Homo sapiens: one gene and its partner. The protein of the gene in region 2 purifies or fractionates together with the protein of the main gene of each other region. This does not show direct contact. Each region holds a gene or a part of one and is shown on either strand. Other genes may lie near its edges.

What was found.
Region 1: the proteins of PCDHB10 (region 2) and CLEC4A purify together in Homo sapiens (co-immunoprecipitation; one large-scale study listed by IntAct). This does not show direct contact.

The regions. Positions count from the first base shown.
Region 1 is NC_000012.12:8,129,128-8,133,685, reverse strand, and holds part of CLEC4A (C-type lectin domain family 4 member A), read right to left. Parts: intron 4,423-4,558; coding exon 4,324-4,422; intron 1-4,323. UniProt on the Homo sapiens protein: C-type lectin receptor that binds carbohydrates mannose and fucose but also weakly interacts with N-acetylglucosamine (GlcNAc) in a Ca(2+)-dependent manner. Involved in regulating immune reactivity.
Region 2 is NC_000005.10:141,190,225-141,196,177, reverse strand, and holds PCDHB10 (protocadherin beta-10 precursor), read right to left. Parts: upstream 3,826-5,953; 5' UTR 3,626-3,825; coding exon 1,223-3,625; 3' UTR 531-1,222; downstream 1-530. UniProt on the Homo sapiens protein: Potential calcium-dependent cell-adhesion protein. May be involved in the establishment and maintenance of specific neuronal connections in the brain.

The DNA of each region.
Region 1 (4,558 bases), on a different chromosome or scaffold from region 2:
ATTAAGTTCTTCATTCACTAAGGAAGGAATTGGGAACACAAAGGGTGGGGGCAGGGGAGTTTGGGGCAACTGGTTGGAGGGAAGGTGAAGTTCAATGATGTTCTTGATTTTAATCCCACATCATGTATCACTTTTTTCTTAAATAAAGAAGCCTCAACACAGTAGATAGACAAAAAAAAAAAAAATGGAAATTTTATAATTGAATAATATAATAACCAAAATAAAAAGCTCAGTGGATGGACTCAGCAGAATGAAGGGGATAGAGAGATTAGTGAATTGGAAGACAAAACAACAGAAAATGTCAACTGAGCAACAGAAACAAACTAGACAGAAAAGGCTGGGCACAGTGGCTCACGCCTGTAAACCCAGCACTTTAGGAGGCTGAGGCGGGCGGATCACCTGTGGTCGGGAGTTCTAGACCAGCCTGGCCAACATGGCGAAACCCTGTCTCTACTAAAAATACCAAAAAAAGGCTGGGCGTGGTGGCTCACACCTGTAATCCCTGCACTTTGGGAGGCCGAGGTGGATGGATCACCTGAGATGAGAAGTTTGAGACCAGCCTGACCAACATGGTGAAACCCCATATCTACTAAAAATACAAAAATTAGCAGGGCATGGTGGCGCACACCTGTAATCCCAGCTACTCAGGAGGCTGAGGCAAGAGAATCGCTTGAACCCAGGAGGCAGAGGTTGCAGTGAGCTGAGATCGCACCACTGCACTCCAGCCTGGGCAACAGAGCGAGACTTCGTCTGAAAAACAAAAACAAAAAAAAAACAAAAACAAACAAAAAAACCCACAAAGAAACAAAAAAACTAGACAGAAAAAAAAATAAACAGAGCCTTGTAAAGTGACCCCAAATGTGTATACACCAAACAAAGCTGCAAAATGTATAAAGCAAAACTGATACAATTGAAAGAGGAATTGACAAATATACAATTATAGGTGGATACATCAACACCTCTCTCTCAACCATTGACAGAACTACACAGAAAATCAGCAAGAACATAGAACTTATAAACATCATCAATTACAAGGATCCAATCCACATTTATAGAACGCTCCACCCAACAACAGAATACCCATTCTTTTCCAGTGCCTCTGGAACATATGCTGAAACAAACCATATCTCGGGACATTAAATAACATCGACTAATTTAAAATTGCTGAAATCATATCGTTTTCTCCAACCACAGTGAAAAGAAACCAGAAATTAATAAAAGAAATAACACAGGAAAATCTCCATACGCTTGAAACTAAACAACACACTTTTAAATAATCCACGAGTCAAAGGAGATGTCTAAAGGGAAATTTTTAAAAATACATTGAACTGAATGAAAATGACAATACAAATTATCAAATTTCATAGGACACTATTCTCCAATCAAAGGAACTAGGGCTCCTCAAAGAAATATCTGATTCCAGGATAGGGACATGAAATGTACAATGTGAGTCTCAAGCATTTTGCAGTCCCAGAAAGTGAGGAAGTGCTAAACCAAAACAAAAGAAAAAACACGTGGTGATATGTTAAAGGGTCACAGGAGTCAAATGAAAAAGTTCCCAATGTCCAAAGCTGGAACTACAAAATAGAGCAGTATTGGATTATAAACCAAAATTTAAAATAAATATCCATGAGTTGGACACACAGTGGGGAACAACACACACTGGGGCCTGTGGTGGAGGGAGCAAGCCGGGGAGGGAGAGCATCAGGAAGAACAGCTAATGGATGCTGGGCTTAATACCTGGGTGATGGGTTGGTCTATGTAGCAAACCACCATAGCACACATTTACCCATGAAACAAACCTGCACATCCTGCACATGTACCCCAGAACTTAAAAGTTGAAGAGATATATATATATATAGATATATATATCTCCATGAGTACATGCAGATATAACTAAATGATTATATAAATAAATAAATGGAATAAAAGAGACAAATATCACCTGGACAAAATTTCAAATAAATTATATAGATACTTGTGATGGTTAATTTTATGTGTCAACTTATCTAGGCCACAGTGCCCAGATATTTGGCCAAACATTCTGGATGTTTCTGTGAAAATGCTTTTGGATGAGATTTACATTTAAATTGCTGGACTTTGAGTAAAGCAGATTGCCCTCAATAATGTAAGTAGATTTCATCTAATCAATTGAAGATCTGAATGGAACAAAAAGAGGGACCTCCTCTGAGCAAGAGGAAACTCAGTGGACTGCCTTTGCACTTCATCTGCAGCACTGGCTCTTCAAGGTTCTGCAGCAGATGGTCTTTGGACTCAAACTGCAACTCTTACTCCTTCCTGAGTCTCCAGCCTGCTGACCATGACTGATACCATAATCCACCCTCATGAATGGAGAGCATAACTCCCCAGTCCTTAAGTGTGGACTGAACCTTCCAAAGAGTGTAGTATGGAAAGGGGTGGGGAGGGAAAGAGTAACTTCACAGTGGAGAAACTTGACAAACACTACCTTAACCAAGTGATCAAGGTCAACATCAATAGTCAAGAATCATTTTGATAATATATGCCCTTGATATGATGTAATGAAAATAGCATTTTACATCTGTGATCTTCCTCCCAAAAACCAATAATCCCAGTCTAATTATTAGAAAAACATCAGACAAATTCTGATAGATGGACATTCTATAATATACCTGACCAGTATTGCTCAAAACTGTCAGGGTCATCAAATATGAGGAAAATCTGAGAAACTACCACAGCCAAGACGTGCCTAAAGAGACATGAGAATTCAATGTAACGTGGTGTTCTGGATGGGGATCCTATTACAGAAAAGAAAATGAGGTGAACACTAAGGAAACCTGAAAATTGTGAATTTTAATTAATAATATACCAATATTAGTTGATTAGTTGTAAGAAGTATACTATATTCATGTAAGATGTTAACAATAGGGGAGAGCATGTGTGCAGAGCAAGGGAAAAATGAGATCTCTTTGCATTATCTGCTCAATTTTTCTGTAAATATAAAACTGTTCTTAAAAATAACCTATTGGCCGGGCATGGTAGCTCACTCCTGTAATCCCAGCACGGGGAGGCTGAGGTGGGAGGATTGCTTGAAGCCAGGAATTCAAGAACAGCCTGGCAACATGGCAAGACCTTCTCTCTACAAAAATTCAAAAAATAAAAATAAAATTGGCCAAGTGTGGTAGTGGGCACCTTTGATCCCAGCTACTGGGAGGCTGAGGTGGAGGATTACTTGGAACCCAGGAGATCAAGGCTACTGTGAGCTGTGGTCACACTACTGAATTCCAGCCTGGAAAACAGAGTGAGATCCTATCTCAAAAATAATAATAATAATAACAATAATCTATTAATTTAAATAATTTAAATAATTCACATCCATAAAAAAATCATCATCACATTTTCATCACATGGTTTTAACTGATATGTGAAAAAAAGAGCAAATGTGTATAGAAAGTTCCGAAAGAAGCAAAGGTCGAAGAAGTCTAAAAGCAATGTAACCTTTTTCACAATTAAGCTTCTATTTTTTTCCATAGACAAATTAAAGATATATGAGTACATATACGAATTTTAGGACCAGGCACCGTGGCTCACGCCTATAATCCCAGCCCTTCAAGAAGCTGAGACAGCCACATCACTTAAGCTTAGGAGTTCAAGATCAGCCTGGGCAACATGGTGAAACTCCATCTCTACAAAAAATACAAAAATTAGCTGAGTGTAGTGGCGTGTGCTTGTAGTCTCAGCTACTCAGGAGGCAGAAATGGGAGGATCACTTGAGCCCGGGAGGTCGAGGCTGTAGTGAGCCATGTTCGCACTACTGCACTCTAGCCTGGGCAACAAAGTGAGACCCTGTCTCAAAAAAACAACAACAAAAGAATTTTATGTCCTATATATTTGTTTTTTTGTCTTTTGGGTTTTTTTGAGGCGGAATCTTGCTCCGTCGCCAGGTGGAGTGCAGTGGCACAACCTCGGCTCACTGCAACCTCTGCCTCCCGGGTTCAAGCGACTCTCCTGCCTCAGCCTCCCGAGTAGCTGGGATTACAGGTGTGTACCACCATGCCTAGCTAATTTTTGTGCTTTTAGTGGAGACGGGGTTTCACCATTTTGGCTAGGATGGTCTCGATCTGTTGACCTTGTGATCCACACGCCTCAGCCTCCCAAAGTGCTGGGATTACAGGTGTGAGCCACCATGCCCAGCATGTCCTAGATATTTGTACATTTGTAGCTTAAATTATTGTGAGACTCAACTTTTCAGTATGATCTACCTGGGAATCTTACTGGAAATATTGATTTGGGATCCTTACATAGTACATTCAGCAACTGAATTCTAGGCACATTAATTTTTACCTTCCACGGGCATATTTTTTTTCACACACTCCAATGTTGTATGAACCAGCTCTTTTGTAGTCTTTTTTTCAAGAAGCTGAGAATATTTTTGAAAGAAAACTGGAAAAGAGAATAAAGACCATTTATTTTCCTGGTAGCATTATGACTTTGCTCTTTATCGTTACTTTCTTGCATTCTTTATTGAAATAAAACTTACAAATGCCCTATTACTGGAGTAGAGGGAAAAGATTTCCCA
Region 2 (5,953 bases):
AAATAATGCAAGTATGAAATAACAATTACGAACTCTAGGAACCATACTTTTCAAGTATGGAAATGTAATTCTAGTACAGTATACAAATGCATATTCTGAAGCATGTAACAATATAGATAATAACCACTAATTTAACTAAGAAACTGTGACATCTATATTGGAGAATAGGAGAAAAAGAATTTGCAATGTTTGCATATGTTTGTTAGTTTGGAAATAAAGCTAAAATGCTTTTCTATTATAGAAAGAAATGGTTCAAATACAAAACAATATCAAGATATAGTATTATAAACATATTATTTATAAATATTGAGATCAATTCAAGAAGAAACCACACTGTGGTAAGGGACTGGCAGAACAGCTAACTTAAAAAACTATAAAATGTTAGTTATATATAGTATATATTTTATATATAGTAATATAAAAAAACTGATGAAACTTGTTTTTCATTCTAACCTTTAGTTCCTCTTGCTTATTAAAAATTTGGTATTTAAAATAAATTTGCAACATATAAATGAATATCTCCAGCAATCTCAACCACACATTTCAAAATGTTTTATTTTTATTCATTTTCAGGCAGATTATAATTTTATTTCAATTATAAGGCATAGTCTGTTTTATACATCAGCAAAAGTTAACATAAGAAAATATTGGCCAAGTAAAAGTAGCATGCTTAAAGATAAAATAATAAGTATATAAACTAAGGGTATTATTGATGTTCAGTATTGCTCACAATATGCTTTGTTTCATTTTGTCATGAGCATAGTAGTAGAGAAATATTTCTTTTTAAATACATGATGTAGAAATAAATGACATGGTTTTCAAACACGAATATATAGAATGTTAGAATGAGTTTGGAAATGTAGATATGCCTTCTTAAATAGAGCAAGTACACTATAGACAGAAGTGATTAGAATCATGAGATGCAAGCTCTGAAATGAATCAAAACCTCAGATTTCTGTAATGAGATATAATAGTAATTAATTCCTTGGGCAGTTGGAAAGAATTAAAACCTTAACACTATCATTTAGAAAAAAATACTCATTAAATTAAACCCAGTTGTTATTAATGCAAAAAAATGATGAAACATTGTAAAACCACAGGGGTATACTACTTGAAAATAATGCTTGAAGTTGCATAATAACTTAAATTTGAGATTTAAAAGTAAACTAATAGAAACATGGCTATGTAACACACCAAAAGTATATGAAACTAAAAACAGACTTTACTGAATATTAAATCCAAAGCTATTTCGGAAGGTGGAATTTTCTTCACCCTTCCTCCCAGGGCCCTGTGCCTGAATATCCGAAATAACTGGTTTCAAGAACTTGAACTCACTGGTCCCGGGGCCTCCCGTCAGACACACCTCATACTGGTAGCTCTGGGACAGGGTCTCAGCGCCCCTCACGTCCACCAGATGCCCTGGAAAAGGACCCTCGGGCACCGAGCAGCGACCCACCGAGGCCGCCCTGCTCCTCCTGCACAGCCGCACCGCCACGAACAGGAGCACCGAGAGGAGGAAGAGCGAAGACACCGAGGCCAACGCCACCACCAGGTAGACGGTGAGCAAGTCGGCCTCGGCCTGGGCCTGGGCCGGGGCCGCCTCCGGGAGAGGCAGGTAGGGCTGGGAGAAGCCGTCCACCAGGAGCAAGTGCAGCGTGGCGGTGGCCGAGCGAGGAGGCTCGCCATTGTCCTTGACAAGCACCACGAGCCTGTGCTTGGCTGCGTCGCGCTCGCTCAGCAGCCTGGCGGTGCGCACCTCCCCATTGTGCGCCCACACACCGAACAGCCCGGGCTCCGTGGCCTTGAGCAGCTGGTACGACAGCCAGGCGTTCTGGCCCGAGTCGCCGTCCACCGCCACCACCTTGGTCACCAGGTAGCCCGGCTCGGCCGCCCGGGGCACCAGCTCGGTGCAGGGCGCGGAGCCGTTCTGCAGCGGGTACAGCACGAAGGGCGAGTTGTCGTTGGCGTCCAGCACCAGCACGCGCACCAGCGCCTCTCTGCTCAGCGCGGGGGAGCCGCGGTCTGTGGCGCCCACGCGGAACTCGAAAGCCTGCAGGGCCTCGTAGTCCAGCGACCTGAGGGCGAACAGGTGGCCGTTGTCCGCGTTGATGGAGACCAGGGAGGCGAGGGGCAGGTGCGGGTCTTGGGGCGGCAGCAGCGAGTAGGTGACCTGGGCGTTGGTGCCCGAGTCTCTGTCTGTGGCGCTGACGCTGCCGATGTGCAGGGCGGGGCTGTTGTTCTCGCGGACGAACAGGGTGTAGGAGGTTTGGGTGAAGGCGGGGGCGTTGTCATTGACGTCGGAGACCAGGACCGTTATGTTGTGCTCGGTTTTCAGCCTGGGTGTCCCCAAGTCAGTGACGGTGATAGTGATGTTGTACTCGGCTCTGATCTCTCTGTCCAGCGCGCCTTCTGTAATTAGGATGTAAAAATTCTCCACAGAAGGTTTTAGTAGGAATGGCAGATTCTCTTGAATGTAGCAAACCATCTTTCCATTTTCTCCAGAGTCTCTGTCATTAATCTTAAAAACAGCCAGCGGCGTCTCAGGAGAATTCTCAGCAACAGAGTTGGAAAATGATGATACGATCAGTTCAGGGGGATTGTCATTGGTGTCCAATACTTCCACTAAAACCCTACATCTTGCAGAAAGGCCTCCACCGTCCATTGCCTGTATATTTATTTTGTAAGAATTTACTAACTCATAATCAAGCAATTCTCTGAGAAAGATTTCCCCAGAAAAAGGATTGATTTGAAAGGTTGTTCGAATATTTTCTGAGGCATCAAAAAATGAATAGGATACTTCCGCGTTGACTCCAGAGTCTACATCTTCTGCCCATACCTTAACAATAAGGAACCCAATGGGGCTGTTTTCTGGAGCCTGGGTCTCATACAGAGCCTGGGCAAACTGTGGGGCATTGTCATTGACGTCCAAGACAACGATGCGTACAGTAGAGGTCCCAGACCTGGATGGAGACCCACCATCCAGCGCTGTGAGGGTTAAGCTGAGCTCTCCCTGCTCCTCCCGATCCAGTGCTTTGTCCAACACTAGCTCTGGATATATCATGCCTTCATCACCGCCACTAATGTTAATATGGAAAAAAGAGTTGGGGCTGATCGTGTAGTTTTGGATACCGTTAAGTCCTCCATCTGGATCCTGTGCTCTTTCTAGTCTAAATGCTGTCCCTTCAGCTGTATTTTCTGATATTTTTAAGACTGTTTCTTTGTCCTGAAATACTGGCGCGTGATCATTTATATCCCTGACTCTCAGCTCAGCCCGGTAAATCTGAAAGGGATCATCCATTAAAATTTGGAAATACAGCATACAGGGCTCTTTAGGGCCACACAGCTTCTCTCGGTCCAGTTTCTCATTTGTGAGCAAATTCCCGGTATGTGAATCCAGGAGCAGGTATTGTTTGTTATCATCGGAAACCACCCTGGTTCCCCTTGCAGCCAGCTCCCCCTCTGCTAGTCCCAGATCCTTTGCCAGATTGACCACAAAGGATCCTTTCTCTGTTTCCTCAGTCACCGAATAACGTCCAAACCCAGAACCTGCCAAGGACACTCCCCAAAAAAGAAAAAGAAACAGGACTTGCCTTTGTCTTGGGAAGCACAACTCTCTGACAGCCATAGCTGCTGCATACGTTATTTCCTAGTTGGTTACAGCCACAGCTCCCAGCATAAAAGAACAGCAGTAGGAAACCCTGCACCTACGCCGTGTAGCCCAGGGGTCTTTTTTGTCCTTTCCCTTTCCCAATCTTTGGCAGCTAAAGCTTCTCTTTTAAGTTCATCTGTCCGTGTCTTCCTTTATTAGTGACTTGCATAGCATCCTCAGAGCAATTCCCAAACCGTCTCTTTAGCCTGCAGCGCCACCGTGTGGCCTCCACCAGATTTCAGTAGTTGTACCCATTTGGGTGTGTGTATTCAGACAATTTCCTTTAGTGCCTCATTTAAATTTTTCATGTTTATTTTCGTTTGTCTTGTAAAAATTAATGTTGAGACAGAGAAATAGTCACATTGTTGAGATTCTTCAATTCTTTTTGGGAAAAGTTAAAAATTCAACACTTGAAAATATGTTTCTAGCAATAACTCTGTCCACCTCACTGTGCTAAATTTAGCTCTCTACTAGTCCTTTCATCTCAGACACAACTCTCACACAATGTCAAGAATCAAAGGGAAAATGTTGCTGACATCTGGGATCACCAAAGTAACAGGAGATTTTACTTTTCCAGAAACATCGGGATAAGAACACCAAAACAGACAAAGAAAATATGTTTCACACCTTCCTCAACAAACTTCAAAATCTCATCACACTGATTAAGGAGAATCATCACTCTGTAATCTTGTATAATGCATTTAAGCTGTCCCTCCTCTATTCTCTCATAAAAACTTGTGTATACAACTATGATTGCCCTGCAAATATTATTGCTTCTTAATTCATGCAAATCTATTTCTTCTTCAATGTGTGGGCTACTTAAGGATAGGAACTATGTCCTAATCATCTGTGAGTGACAAATCAGACAAGCAATAAATACTGCCTGTATTAGGACATGCATAAATAAACTCAGATGGGTAGAACCTGAAACGTTTTCCAGTGCCTTTCAATTCCGACCACTTGAAAGTTTTTTTCTTTCATTTACTCTTTGCAATTTCTGTTTCCTTACTTTCACTTGTCTTTGTTTTTCTTGTATTAGCTTTAAAGTAACTTACAGGGTTAAATAAGAGATTGATCCTTATTTTAAGGTCCCCTCTTAATTGAAATTTAGCAGGATCTAACTTCTCTGCACCAAATAAAGGGAGGTAAAGAACAGACCACACTAACACCTATCTTAACACTATTAAAATTAAGAACAGCATTCTAGTGTCTTTTTTCATAGAATTTTATTCAAAGTTCTTTTTAAGTTATTTTATATTTTATTTTATTTTATTTTGATGGAGTTTTGCTCTTATTGCCCAGGCTGGAGTACAATGGTGCAATCTCGGCTCAAAGCAACTTCCACCTCCTGGGTTCAAGCGATTCTCCTGCCTCAGCCTCCCGAGTAGCTGGGATTACAAGCATGTGCCACCATGCCTGGCTAATTTTGTATTTTTAGTAAAGACGGGGTTACTTAACGTTGGTCAGGCTGGTCTCAAACTCGTGACCTAAGGTGATCTGCCCGCCTTGGCCTCCCAAAGTGCTGGGATTACAGGAATGAGCCACTGAGCCCTGCCTCAAAGACCTTATATCTAGAAAGAAGCTCTATTTTGTCTATAATAGGCCCAAATGGATTAAGTCAAGGAATGTCGTGGAGGAAAAGGCTAGACACTACCAATAACACTCTAATAGCTGAATATAAAAGCCGCACAATATAAACCTCTACTTTGTGATTGCTGTTGTTTTTTCAACTGGATGGCACTGGGCTATTAGCCATTAAAAATTTAACAGGAACCTCAGGAACCTCTGATTTGTTTATACAGAATTAAAAGGAGCAAATTAAATATTTTCACATGATCCTATAGAATGACTAAATTTTTTTTTTTTTTTTGGTTTCCAGACTAAAGCCCATTTACACACGCTTAATATCTTGCAGTGGTTTTTCTTCTAAGGCTAATTAGGGGTTTATTTATCATATCACTTACAAGAGAAACATTATATTTCAAATAGGGAACTATCAATGCCGGGAAACTAGAACTTTAAAATAAAAGGTAAAGTTTAAGAAAATTATTGTAGGCTGGGTGCGGTGGCTCATGCCTGTAAATCCCAGCAATTTGGGAGGCTGAGTGGGGTGGATCACGAGGTCAAGAGATAGACCATCCTGGCCACCATGATGAAACCCGTCTCTACTGAAAATACAAAAATTAGCCGAACGTGGTGACATGCAACTGTAGTCCCAGATACTCTGGAGGCTGAGGCAGGAGAATCGCTTGAACCTGGGAGGCGGAGGTTGCAGTGAGCTGAGATCGCGCCACTGCACTCCAG